Linked DNA regions of Homo sapiens. The protein of the gene in region 2 interacts with the protein of the main gene of each other region in a pairwise test. Each region holds a gene or a part of one and is shown on either strand. Other genes may lie near its edges.

What was found. Proteins that work in one complex are often made in the same cells at the same time.
Region 1: the proteins of PPP1R16B (region 2) and PLEKHN1 interact in binary tests that used the Homo sapiens proteins (3 or more experiments, as listed by UniProt).

Annotation. Positions count from the first base shown.
Region 1 is NC_000001.11:962,635-969,500, forward strand, and holds the start of PLEKHN1 (pleckstrin homology domain-containing family N member 1), read left to right. Parts: upstream 1-3,847; 5' UTR 3,848-3,897; coding exon 3,898-3,980; intron 3,981-4,069; coding exon 4,070-4,169; intron 4,170-6,866. Other genes in the region: KLHL17 (kelch-like protein 17), read left to right, coding at 70-283, 475-619, 703-870, 1,286-1,374, 1,473-1,546, 1,715-1,896, 2,329-2,557. UniProt on the Homo sapiens protein: Controls the stability of the leptin mRNA harboring an AU-rich element (ARE) in its 3' UTR, in cooperation with the RNA stabilizer ELAVL1.
Region 2 is NC_000020.11:38,906,681-38,913,699, forward strand, and holds part of PPP1R16B (protein phosphatase 1 regulatory inhibitor subunit 16B isoform 1 precursor), read left to right. Parts: intron 1-298; coding exon 299-374; intron 375-1,125; coding exon 1,126-1,255; intron 1,256-1,347; coding exon 1,348-1,513; intron 1,514-7,019. UniProt on the Homo sapiens protein: Regulator of protein phosphatase 1 (PP1) that acts as a positive regulator of pulmonary endothelial cell (EC) barrier function. Involved in the regulation of the PI3K/AKT signaling pathway, angiogenesis and endothelial cell proliferation.

The DNA of each region.
Region 1 (6,866 bases), on a different chromosome or scaffold from region 2:
GGTTGTCTCAGCCCTGACGCCCAGTGTGCCCGAGGGTCCCGCCTGACCTTGGCGTTCCCTGCACCCCAGCTCATGAAGTGTGTGCGGCTGCCCTTGCTGAGCCGCGACTTCCTGCTGGGCCACGTGGATGCCGAGAGCCTGGTGAGGCACCACCCTGACTGCAAGGACCTCCTCATCGAGGCCCTGAAGTTCCACCTGCTGCCTGAGCAGAGGGGCGTCCTAGGCACCAGCCGCACACGTCCCCGGCGCTGCGAGGGGGCCGGGCCTGTGCTTTTTGCTGTGGGTATGGCCCCCCGCCCGTTTCCCTCTTGCCCTGTGCCTTCTACTCCCCACCAGCACAAGCCCACCCCACCTGTGCCGGTCAGGTCCTGACCTGCCCCTCCGCCCCTCCATTCAGGGGCCTCTCCAGGAGCCTGGGGTGTGGCCCAGCAGTGGGATCCACTCACGAGTCCCGTCTCCACCTGCCCTCCCCAGGCGGCGGGAGCCTGTTTGCCATCCACGGAGACTGTGAGGCCTACGACACGCGCACCGACCGCTGGCACGTGGTGGCCTCCATGTCCACGCGCCGGGCCCGGGTGGGAGTGGCTGCGGTGGGGAACCGGCTCTATGCTGTGGGCGGGTAAGCCTGGAGGCTGGACTTGGGTCGGGTCTGGCACGTGCCCGCCAGGCCAGTCTTGACCTGCAGTGGCTTAATTCCGCTAGCTATGATGGGACCTCAGACCTGGCTACCGTGGAGTCCTACGACCCCGTGACTAACACGTGGCAGCCGGAGGTGTCCATGGGCACAAGGCGAAGCTGCCTGGGTGTGGCCGCCTTGCATGGACTCCTGTACTCGGCCGGCGGCTATGACGGGGCCTCCTGCCTGAACAGGTAGTTGGGGTTGGGGCCCCAGTGGCTTTGTACAGTCCATCTGCAAGAGGCAAGTTTGTGTCACCATCACAGGGGTCGTATCTGATGGGGTGTTAAAGGAGGTGATCCGCGAGGCCGTTTCACCCCAGGCCACTGCCACACTGGGCCTGAACTCTTGGCTTTGCTGCCCCAGTGCCCTTTCCTCTCTCGGGTCCTTACCCCCAGTCCAGAGGCTGGGCCCAGGTGGGTGTGCACCCAGGGTTGTTCAGGCAGCCAGGGTCCTGTGCCCACCAGCGGGCCCTGCCTGGTAGGACTTTGCGGTCTGAGTTTGACTCCTAGGGTAAGATTTCAGCCATTCCGCTGGGGAGGGCAGGTCCTGGGGCCGGGACGCCTTTCTGTCTCTGCTGAGCTGTGGCTGCGGTCCTGGTGCCCACAGTGCTGAACGCTACGACCCCCTGACCGGAACGTGGACGTCCGTCGCTGCCATGAGCACCCGGAGGCGCTATGTGCGAGTGGCCACGCTTGGTGGGTGATGGGGCCTGCCTGGGGGGCATCCCCACCTTCCCCCACCGTGGAGACCCCACTCCCAGCAGGAGTGCCACGGGTGTGTTGACTTCCGGCAGATGGGAACCTGTATGCTGTGGGCGGCTACGACAGCTCCTCACACCTGGCCACTGTGGAGAAGTATGAGCCCCAGGTGCATAGTGCACCCCTCCTGGCCACCCCCTCCCGTGCGCCGCGGGGCCCTCCTCCCTCTGTTTACCCACATCCCCCCCATTCCTGACACCCCACCCTGGAGTCGGGGCTGCGGCAGAGGAGGGATGCCAGTGGCGGGTCTGCGTCCAGCCCACGCCCTCGCCCCCAGGTGAACGTGTGGTCGCCCGTGGCGTCCATGCTGAGCCGACGCAGCTCAGCGGGCGTGGCCGTGCTGGAGGGTGCCCTGTACGTGGCAGGGGGCAACGACGGCACCAGCTGCCTCAACTCGGTAGAGAGATACAGTCCAAAGGCTGGAGCCTGGGAAAGCGTGGCGCCCATGAATATCCGCAGGTCCGCAGTGGGGCTGCGGGGAGGGGGGCGCGGGTCCGCAGTGGGGCTGTGGGAGGGGTCCGCGCGTCCGCAGTGGGGATGTGCTGCGGGGAGGGGGGCGCGGGTCCGCAGTGGGGATGTGCTGCCGGGAGGGGGGCGCGGGTCCGCAGTGGGGATGTGCTGCCGGGAGGGGGGCGCGGGTCCGCAGTGGGGATGTGCTGCCGGGAGGGGGGCGCGGGTCCGCAGTGGGGATGTGCTGCCGGGAGGGGGGCGCGGGTCCGCAGTGGGGATGTGCTGCCGGGAGGGGGGCGCGGGTCCGCAGTGGGGATGTGCTGTGAGAAGGGAGTTCTCCCAACCTCAGCGAGCATGTCCCGCCACCACCCCTTTTTGTGGTGCAGCCCCTCCCCCCGCATCCCTTCCTGCAGCCAGGGGCTCACCCCGCCTTCCCCCCAGGAGCACGCATGACCTGGTGGCCATGGACGGATGGTTGTACGCCGTGGGGGGTAACGACGGTAGCTCCAGCCTCAACTCCATCGAGAAGTACAACCCGAGGACCAACAAGTGGGTGGCCGCATCCTGCATGTTCACCCGGCGCAGCAGTGTGGGTGTGGCGGTGCTGGAGCTGCTCAATTTCCCGCCGCCATCCTCCCCGACGCTGTCCGTGTCCTCCACCAGCCTCTGACCCACCTACCACCAGAGGCCTGCAGCCTCCCACATGCCTTAAGGGGACCGTGGCCCCCACCAGGGACGTCCTGCGCCATCCGTTCACGTCTCTGCATCCATTCCTTCATGTCTTTATTTAGTTGTTTATTTATTTAGTTATTTATCTTATTTATTGAGGGGTGAGGAGTGCCACGGCTGCCCGTTTACACCTTTAGCGTCTGGTCCTCCTGCGTGTCCTCCCCTCCACTGCCTGCATGGGGGGCGCGGGGAGTGACCAGGCGGGGGCCTCACCGCCCCAGGGCCGTTGCCTGCTCAGACCTTGCAGGCTGTGGAGCAAGAGGCCCTGGGTCTCTCCAAGCAGCTGCAGACCCCAGCTCGAATTTTGCACATGGCGGGGTCCCGGGAAGGGTGGGGAGCAGTTGTCCTTCCTGTCGTCGTCTGCCGTGTGCCATCTTTCCTGGATCTTGTAGTGGGTGCACACGCGTGCACTGGGACCCCACACAGCAATACGAGTCCAACTTAATAAACACATTTCTGGGGTTCCTCAGGCTGAGCATCTCTCTCTGGCATGTGGGGCAGCTGCGCAACTTTGGGTCCTGTCTGGGGTCCAGGGTGAGGGGTGTGGGGGGGTGCCCTGAGATGCGCAGGCATCTGGGAGCTGCAAGGCAGAGCTGTGCGTCCAGGGAGGGTGGGGGCCGTGCAGTTCCTGTGGACCAGCGTCCCAGTGTGGGTGGCGTTTGCCTGGGCTGGGTACTGAGGCCGAGGTCCCCGCCACATCGTGGGCTCTGGGGTTAGGGCTGGGGAGGACAGCCTTGCCCCCGAGTGCGCTGACTGTCTTGGCCGTCTAGGGGGCATGTGGCCTCCCTGAGTCCCCTTAAGCCTTGGGGACCCTGACTCGGGTCTGTGGCGAGGGGGCCCAGGCAGGAGGGGAGGCTGCGGTGGCTTTGGCCGCCGTCTCCTGTGCTGGAACTCCTGCCTCAGCCCTCCCTGCAGTCACCGGTGACTCGGGCCGGCCAGAGTTTAGATGGAAACAGGATGTGTGGGCACGTTGTCCCGGGGGGCCTGGAAGGTCGCCCCGGGTTCACCAAGCCGGAGCACAAGCAGGTGGGGTACCTCTGCACACTGGAGGCCTCGTCTGGGCCAGAGGGGTGCTTGCCCCAAGGCTGGCCTCTCGAGTGGAGGGCCCAGGGCAGAGACCTGCACGGCTCAGGTAGGGGCCAGGCCTCTTCCAGAAAGGCTCCACCCTCGCCCAGGCCCTGGTGCCGGGCGGGACGTCCCGGAGCCCCGCCTGCCCGCGGGAGGCGGGGGCAGGAGGCTGTGGACAGGGACCCAGACTTGCCGACCTGTACGACTCTGGCCATGGGGAACAGCCACTGTGTCCCTCAGGCCCCCAGGAGGCTCCGGGCCTCCTTCTCCAGAAAGCCCTCGCTGAAGGGAAACAGGTGAGCGGGGCGTGGGTGCGGCCACCTGGGCGCAGGGCTCCCCCACCCGCTCCGGGGCCAAGCCACGAGACCCCTTGCCTTGTCCCCAGAGAGGACAGCGCGCGGATGTCGGCCGGCCTGCCGGGCCCCGAGGCTGCTCGAAGCGGGGACGCCGCCGCCAACAAGCTCTTCCACTACATCCCGGGCACGGTGAGCGCGGCGTGCACGGTGGCTGTGGTCTGGGAGCGTGGCTCTGCCCGCGCGTGTGTGCCGTGTGTCCGTGCAGCTCAGGGTCTTCCCCTCGCCCCCGGGGCGTTCAGACCCCGGTAGGTGAGGAGCCGACGCTGACTGCCCCGCCCTGGGGAGCTCATCCGGCCGAAAGTCTGAGCGGAGAGCGAAACCGCGACGCAGGACTGAGTCAGTCGGGAGAGAGCTGGGCGGGGCGGGCCGCGGGCGGGGCCTCCCGGGACCTCCTCCCGCAGGGGACCAGCGCACGTGTCTCTGTCGCTGCAGTGGGGCTTGGGGTCGTGCCGGCAGGTAGTGTCACTTGAGAGTAAGGGGCCTCAGATGAGCAGCGAGCCAGCCGGTCACCTACACCGGCCTTTCTCCCTGGGTGTCCCGCAGGAAGTTGCCGCTGGGTATGGCCGCCTGGTCCACAGCAATCCCTCTGTGCACGCGCCGGCCTCCTCCCAGCTTGCCAAGGCCATGCAGCAAGGAGGTGTCTCCCAAGCACACACTAGGCCACCTCTCCGTCAAAGGAGCAGAAGACCACCCCCATGCCCACCCCCCCCCCAGCCCCTGTGGGACTAAGGGTCTTCACAGGGTAGATCCCAGCCCCTTTCAGATGTGTCTGGTGCTGGGATGAGGGAACAGGACCAGGAACCTGGGCTTCAGGGCAGACAGGAACCCCCACTGCACCCCCGTCAGGCAGCCTGGATGGGTGGGCTCCGCTATGTGCAGGCCCTAGGAGCATCTGCGGGAGAGGACGCCTGCCCTGCACTCCTGGGTCCAGCAGCTGGCATGGCCGTGCAGACCCCTTTGCCAACATGCCCCCGCCAGGCAGGAAGCTCGTGCCATACCCTCTCCTGACCTCCAGAGTTTCAGGGCTCCCTGCAGACAAGTACTGGTTTCGGAAACCACGCTGCCTCAGAGGAGTGGGCAGGGAGAGGGAGCCGGGCTGGGTTAGGGGTGGGGTCCCTGTGGCTGCATCTCAGACACCACTCCCTCTGTCCAGGCCCAGGACATGCAGTGTGACCCTGGGGGGTCCTATGAGGTGTGGTGGGTGGCCGTAGTGGTCCTCCCTTGCCAGGACATGGTAGCCACAGAGGCAACAACCTGCTGAACCTCGGGAAATGGGGCTGGGGGAGGAGCTCTGGGCCAGTCCTAGAGCCAGTGCTCCGCGGCCCTGTACCTGGGCTCTGCACCCAGTGCTGTGAGCTGGCTCTACTACGGCTCCAAGCTGAGTCCTCCCCGGGGCCCCGAGGCTGAGCTGCGCTGCAGGGCCAGCTGTGTGGCCCTTCCTGGTCTGTGGCCTATTTTTCATGGGTGCCAACCCGGCATCAGTTCCCACGCTGGGTGTGGGTACAGGAGGCCCCACCCAGAGGCAGAAGGCCGGGAAAGCCATGCGTCTGTCTGTTCACATTCCTGGGCCTGCTCAGGGGCAGCTAAGCTTGGCCAGGGCACAGCAGCTCTGCAGGTAGCTCTCGCCAGCTCCTAGAAGGAGGAGGACACCTTCCCACTTGGCCCTGAGCCTGTGGATCACAGAGGTCTCCAGCCCCAGGTTCACACCCGTCCCTTTTCTGACTTCCAACCTGGTGATCAAAGCCTGCATTTGTAGAGGACTGTGTGTGCCAGGATTGACTACATGTGGCGTGGATGTGGAGTCCCCTCCCCTCTCAGCACATGCAGTGATACCCACAGCACATCCCAGGCCCTGTCTTAGGCTCTGGGGACACAGCAGTGAACGGAATAGACAACCCCTGTTCTGCTAGTGCTCCCATTCCCACGGCAGAGACACACGACGGGACAAATCAATAGATCCAGTGAGCGGGGTCAGGTCGGTGCTAAGGAGAAAAACAGAGGGGATGAGTGCAGAGGATCAGGGAAGGCTGGAATTTTAGAAAGGCTTTCAGAAAAGGAATTCTTGGAGCAGGTAATGTCTGAGCAAAGCTGCAAAGCGGGTAAGGAGGGGGGTCAGGACTGAGCGGTCCCCAAAGCAGGAACAGAACATGCAGCAGCCAGAGAGCATGGGTCTGATGTGAGGAGACAGTGAGGCCGGGGCAGCCACAGAGACCCCTCGGGGGAGACCCCTCGGGGCACTGCCAGGACCCCGTTGTCCCCTGAGTGAGGCATACGGAGCGGCCAACACACAGAGGATCGACCCCAGAAATCTCCTCACATATTTCAGGCTGGGGGCTGGAAATGGGCAACGGTGAGGACACTGACACCGAGGAGATTGGCAAACGTTACAAATCAGGGCATCGGTGTGTTTCTGTGTCTGTTTTTTGTAGAACCAGGTGTTAAGCATTTACCATACAATACTGCAGACGTGGGAGGGTTTTGAGTGTTACCCAGACACCCCCAAATTCTTCTAACAAGTCTTCAGAGGTTGAATAACCCAAGCCATGTTACACAGCTTAGGAAAGAATGAAGATGGGTTTAATCCACTGAGTCCAGATCTCACCATCTCTACCACTAGACCAGGCAGCTCTGTGTGGGGAAGTGTGTCTGTGTGTGCGTGTGTGTGCACAAGTGTGTATGTGTGCATGTGTTTGCACGTGTATATGTGTGCACACATCTGTGTGTATATGCACAGGTGTATGTATACGTGTGTGTTGGTGTATTTGTGTGTGTGTGGAAATGTATGCATGTATGCAGTGTGCATGTGTGCATGCATGTGTGTGCATG
Region 2 (7,019 bases):
CAAAACTCTGATTGTCACTTACACCTAGTCCCTCCTTAGATACCTGCCAGCTCTAGAGTTACAGCCAACTCTTTCTTCTCCTTCTTCTTGGTGTGGCCCAGGCATGTGGAGGAGGTGCTAAGCTCATTGCATCTGTCTGGATTCCCCCCATGGCTCTAGTTTGCAGGCCTTCCCTGGAAATCAACTTTGTCCCACCATTCTTTGGGTCACATCCTAAGAGGCCTTGGGCACTCTCTCCACCTCCTAGGCTTTCTGAGCTCTGGGCAGGGGGACACATGAGCTTCTTCCTGTGTTTCAGATGCAGATGGCAGAGCTATTGGTGTCCCATGGAGCTAGTCTCAGTGCAAGGACATCCATGGATGAGATGCCAATAGGTAAGTCCAGCACAATAGCTGGTGTGCACAAATAGGCAGTTATCAATGTTTTGATGGGTAGAGGGAGAAATAGATAAATATATGGTTGTATAGATTGATGGATTGGTGTCTAGATAGATAGATGGATTAATTAATGGATGGTAGATGAATGGACGGATGGACAGATTAATGGATAGATGGATAAATGGATGAATGGATGGTTGAGGTGGTAGATGGGTAGATATTATGAGGTCTGGTTGAATGGATGGGTGGGTGGGTGGATGGATGGATGGATGGATGGATGGATGGATGGATAGACAGAAAAATAAGTGGATGAGTGGGTAAAGGATGAATCTATGAATACATGGCTCAGTCAGCAATAGGTAGATAGATGGATGAAGGGGTTAGGTAGAATAGATGGGAGTATGTAGCTTTATTAGCATCTTTGCATAATTTATTGCTTGGGCTATGTGGGGTACCTGCTTGGGGACTCTTCTTGGAAACTATCAAAGAGCAACATGAATCCCTCGGTCATAGCTGGGAAGCTTAGGAATTGTGACTGTGCCCAGAACCTGGGTTTCCCATTCTTATAATCCTCTTATAAACACACTCACTCAACTTTGGCTGGCATTGTTTTCTTGCCTCCCTGCATGCCCTGAAAGATGCTTGGAGTTTTCAGTGGGTTGGGGTGGCAGCTCCTCTGGTCTGGAGCACCCTCTTGCGCCACAGGTCCTGGCCCCGTCCCCCACAACAGACTCCTCTGCCCCTTCAGACCTGTGCGAGGAGGAAGAGTTCAAGGTCCTGCTGCTGGAGCTAAAACACAAGCATGATGTGATCATGAAGTCACAGCTGAGGCACAAGTCATCCTTGAGCCGGAGGACCTCCAGCGCAGGCAGCCGTGGGTGAGTCCGGGGCAGGGCAGCCAGGAGTCCCTGTGTGTGCTCCTGCCTGTGGTGCCTGGGTGCAGCCTCTAGGACCCACTTTGTCCTCTCAGGAAGGTGGTGCGGCGAGCCAGCCTGTCGGACAGGACCAACCTGTATAGGAAGGAGTATGAGGGAGAGGCCATCCTGTGGCAGCGGAGTGCAGCTGAGGATCAGCGGACCTCCACCTACAACGGGGACATCAGGGAGACCAGGACAGACCAAGAGAATAAGGACCCTGTGAGTGGCCTCACGCCCTGCCCTAGTGTCAGCCACTGCAATGGGAGGAGAACAGGGCCCAGCCTGGCCTTGCCTCTTCAACTGAGAGCCTTCAGAGGGAAGTAGCCAGGCACTGCCCTTAAACTAGCATATCCAGTCTGATGATGATGGCTACTGTAGTTAAACCAGCAGATTCAGTCTGATGGTGGTGGCTGCTGTAGTTAAGGAGGTGATCGGGGAGTGTGTTAGAGGCTGAGCTGGGTGCTTTGGCACACAGGTAGGTCTCCTAATTGACAGGGGGTGAGTGTCCGCTATGCGCCTAGCTGTGCTCCAGCACACCTAGCAGTGGACTTCCAAGGAGAGAGCTTCAGTAGGGCAGTCACCCAGGAGCTGAGGGTGCTACAACTTCTTTTTCAGGAAATATAACAAGATATTGAGAATTGTGTTTATCAGAACATGTTTTTTGAAAAATGGAGTAGGATCCTAGTAGGACCTCTGAGAAGCCTGCTCCTGTAGCAGCCAATGGTCCTTTAAGCTTTAAGCTGCTTTCATTTCTGATGGCTGCTTTAAGAAATTATCACAAACTGGATGGCTTAACATGGTGGAAATTTATTCTCTCTCAGTTCTGAAGGCCAGAAGTCTAAAATCCAGGTAACACCAGCATTGGTTCCCTCTGGGGGCTCTCAAGGGGATTCTGTTCCACGCCTCTGCGAGCTTCTGGTGGCTCAGGCGTTCTTTGGCTCTTGCTAGCAATGATTCTAGTCTCTGCTTCTATCTCCACATGACCTTTTTCTTCGTGTGTGTGTGTCTGTTTTCTTTTTTTATTTTTATTTTATTGGTTTTTTTTGAGACAGGGTCTTGCTCTGTCACTCAGGCTGGAGTGCAGTGGCATGATTATAGATCACTGAAGACTCCAACTCATGGGCTTAAGCGATCCTCCCACCTCAGCCTCCCAAGTAGCTGGGACTATAGGCGGGGGCCATCACGACTGGCTAATTTTCAAATTTCTTGTAGAGATGAGGTCTTGCTGTGTTGCCCAGGCTGGCCTCAAACTTAGCCTCAAGCAATCCTCCCACCTTGGCTTCCCAAAGTACTGAGATTACAGGTTCGAGCCACTGTACCTAGCCTGTTTTTTCCTCTTATGAGGACACCAGTCATTGGATTGGAGCCCATGCCAATCCAGTATGACCTAATCTTAATTTAATTTATTACACCTGCAAATACCTATTTCTAGATAAAGTCACATTCAGAGATTCCAGGTAGACATGAATTTTTGAGGGACACTACTTAACCCAGAACCAACACACTCACTCAGCATGGCTGCTTTCTTGCTGAGTGGAGTGAACAAGTTTGGGGCTGGAGTGGAATTGCTGAGGATGAGGGAGAAGTTAACTGTACCAGAAGTGGTCTGCCATTTTCGTTCTTCCACTACACCACGAACAGATGAAAACATGCCTAGAGAGTTTAGCCTTGGTGGGATGAAATTGATTAGCTACCGAGCATGCCCACGTGTCTCAGAGGGACCCTGCTTCCCAGCACGAACAGTGGGGTCACCTACTGCCTGTCTCACCAGGAGGTGTGAAGGTGCCTGCCCAAGGGGAGGCCACATCAAAGCCACCAGCTGGTGATGGAGAGGGCACGTAGGGAAGATTTGTTCTGCCTGGCCCCTTAGTCTGAGGATTGGTGAGAAAAGAGATGTAGATCAGTATCAAATCACATTTCAGATGTCTCCCAGCTGTGCTTTATTTATTTTTCCTTTGTGATTGTGGTGTAACTTAAGTATGGTAAAGCAGACAAATCTTTTTTTATTTTTTTATTTTTTTATGATATGGAGCCTCGCTCTGTTACCCAGGCTGGAGTGCAGTGGTGTGATTTCAGCTCACTGCAACCTGTGCTCCCGGGTTCAAGCGATTCTCTTGCCTCAGCCTCCTGAGTAGTTGGGATTACTAGTGCCCGCCACGACGCCTGGTGGATTTTTGTATTTTTAGTAGAGATGGGGTTTCACCATGTTGGCCAGGCTGGTGTTGAAGTTCTGACCTCAAGCAATCCTTACCCACTTGGACCTCCCAAAGTGCTGGGCTTACAGGTGTGAGCCACCATGCCTGGCCAAGTAGACAAATCTTAAATGAGATTTTCAACAACCTTTTACAAATGTACACACTCAGATGAATTCATAGAGCATTTTCATCATCCATGTTCTCTCTCCGTCCTTTCCCCCACTCCAAATGTAGTCACTATTTAACTTTGAGTTCTAAAGATTAATTTTGTATATGCATATGAATGACCCTGCAGTTTCTTTCGTGTCTGGCTTTTTTTACATCTGTGAGAGTCACCCACGTTGTGGCATATAGCAGTAGTTTTTTTTTGTTTTTTTTTTTTGAGACAGGAGTTCACTCTGTTGCCTGGGCTGGAGTGCAGTGGTGTGATCCTAGCTCACTGCAGCCTTGACCTCTTGGGATCAAGCGATCCTCCCACCTCAGCCTCTTGGGTAGCTGGGACTATAGGCATGCACCACCATGCCTGGCTAATTAAAAAAAATTTTTGGCTGGGTGCCGTGGCTCATGCCTGTAATCCCAGCACTTTGGGAGGCCGAGGTGGGTGGATCACAAGGTCAAGAGATCGAGACCATCCTAGCCACATGGTGAAACCCCATCTCTACTAAAAATACAAAAATTAGCTGGGCATGGTGGCACGCGTCTGTAGTCCCAGCTACTCAGGAGGCTGAGGCAGGAAAATCACTTGAACCCGGGAGGTGGAGGTTGCAGTAAGCCAAGATCGAGCCACTGCACTCCAGCCTGGGGACAGAGCGAGACTCCGTCTCAAAACAAAACAAAACAAAACAAAACAAAATTTTTTAGAGATGGAATCTTGCTATGTTGCCCAGGCTGGTCTCAAACTCCTGGGCTCAAATGATCCTCTTGCCTCAGTCTCCCAAAGTGCTGGGATTATAGGCACGAGCCACTGTACCTGGCCTCATTCTTGTTTTTTTTTTCTTTTTCTTTTTTTTTTTTTGAGATGGAGTCTTGCTCTGTCCCCCAGGCTGGAGTGCATTGGCGCGATCTCGGCTCACTGCAACCTCCATCTCCCGGGTTCATGCCGTTCTCCTGCCTCAGCCTCCCTAGTAGCTGGGACTATAGGTGCCCACCATCACGCCCAGCTAATTTTTTGTATTTTCAGTAGAGACGGGGTTTCACCGTGTTAGCCAGGATGGTCTCGATCTCCTGACCTCGTGATCCACCCGCCTCAGTCTCCCAAAGTGCTGGGATTACAGGCGTGAGCCACCACGCCTGGCCGCCTCATTCTTTTTTATTGCTTTCTAGAATTCGATTGTTTGAATATTAAAATTTACATATCCATGCTCCTTTTTTTTTTTTTTTAAATTGAGACAGAGTCTCGCTTTGTCACCCAAGCTAGAGTGCAGTGGCGTGCTCTTGGCTCACTACAACCTCTGCCTCCCAGGATCAAGCGATTCTCCTGCCTCAGCCTCCTGAGTAGCTGGGATTACAGGTGCGTGCCACCACGCCCGGCTAATTTTTCTATTTTTAGTAGAGATGGGGTTTCGCCATATTGGCCAGGCTGGTCTTGAATTCCTGACCTCAAACGATCCACCCTCCTCGGCCTCCCAAAGTGTTGGTATTACAGGGGTCAGCCACTGCTCCTGGCCTCCATTCTCCTTTTGGTGGACATTTGGGTTTCTTGTTTCTGGCTCCTGTGAATAAAGCTCCTATAAACATTTTTGTACATGTCTTTTGGTGGACATAAGCACTATTTTGTGTTGGGAAAACACCCAGGAAAGCAGCTGGAGTCACGGGTAGGCATATGTTTAGCTTTAGTGGATACTACCAAGCAGTTTTCCAAGGTGCCTTGTACCTGTCTGCTTTCCCATGGCAGAGTGTTTCTTGCCAACCCTTGGTATAGTCAGTCTTTTTTTTTTTTTTTTTTTTGATACAGAGTTCCGCTCTTGTTGCCTAGCCTGGAGTGCAATGGCGCCATCTCGGCTCACTGCAATCTCCGCCTCCCGGGTTCAAGTGATTCTCCTGTCTCAGCCTCCTGAGTAGCTGAGATTACAGGCACCTGCCACCATGCCCAGCTAATTTTTGTGTTTTAGTAGAGATGGGGTTTCACCATGTTAAGGTGGGAATTCTCAAAGCATGGTCCCTGTACCAGCAACATCAGCATCACCTGGGAACTTGTTAGAAATGCAGACTTTGGCTGGGCACAGTGGATCACAAATCCTGTAATCCCAAAACTGAGGGAGGCTGAGGTGGGAGGATCTTCTGAGCCTAGGAGTTACTGGACAACATGGCAAGACCGTATCTCTACCCCCCACCAAAAAAAAAAAAAAAAAAAACAATTAGGTGGGTGTGATGGTGTGTACCTGTAGTCTTAGGTCTTGTGAGGCTGAGGCAGGAGGATTGCTTGAGTCGAGGAATTCAATGCTGCAGTGAGCTATGATAGCACCACTGAACTCCAGCCTGGGTGACAGAGTGAGGCGTGGTCTCTAAAAAAAAAATAAAAATAAATAAATGTAGATTCTCAGGACCCACTCCAGATGTGGCGATACTGCTGCACACAAGAATTTCAGAACCACTTATTTGAGGAATAATTTGTTCAGCCTGACCCCCAAATCACATTTCTTCCAAGGCTGTGCCCTGTTAGCCTTCAGGGATGACTTTGGTTCACTGTTTTTTGTTTTTGTTTTTTTCCTCTGAGACAAGGTCTCACTCTGTTGCCCAGGCTAGACTGGAGTGCAGTGGCGCAAACTTCGTTCACTATAGCCTCTGCCTCCCAGATTCAAGCAATTCTCCCACCTCAGCCTCCTGATTAGCTGGGACTACAGGCACCCGCCACCATGCCCAGCTAATTTTTGTGTTTTTTGGTAGAGATGGGGTTTCCCCATGTTGGCCAGGCTGGTCTCGAACTCCTGACCTTAAGTGATCCACCTGCCTTCGCTTCCCAGAGTGCTGGGATTACAGACATGAGCCACTGTGCCCCTTGTTTTTTAATCTGATGTTTAAGTAGCAGTACAGACAAACTAAATCAGAATCTCAGGAGTTGGGACCTCAGCATTGTATATGTTTGTCATTGGTGTTTTTTTTTAATTTTTTTTAGATGGAATCTTGCTCTGTTGCCAGGCTGGAGTGCAGTGGCTCAATCTTGGCTCACTGCAACCTCCGCCTCCCAGGTTCAAGTGATTTTCCTGCCTTAGCCTCCTGAGTAGCTGGAACTACAGGCGCACGCCACCATGCCCAGCTAATTTTTGTATTTTTAGTAGAGACGGGGTTTCACCATGCTGGCCAGGATGGTCTCAATCCCTTGACCTTGTGATCCACCCGCCTCGACCTCCCAAAGTGCTGGGATTACGGGCGTGAGCCACCATGCCTGGCCATGTCGTTGTTTTTTAAAGCTAAAGAGAGACTGTTTTTGAAGTGATTGCAGCAGTAAGTAGAATGCATCGACCACAGAATTGGCAAGATCTTGGAGGTCAAGGAGAAAGGAGTTCGTTTCCTAGGGAGGAAGACAGAGG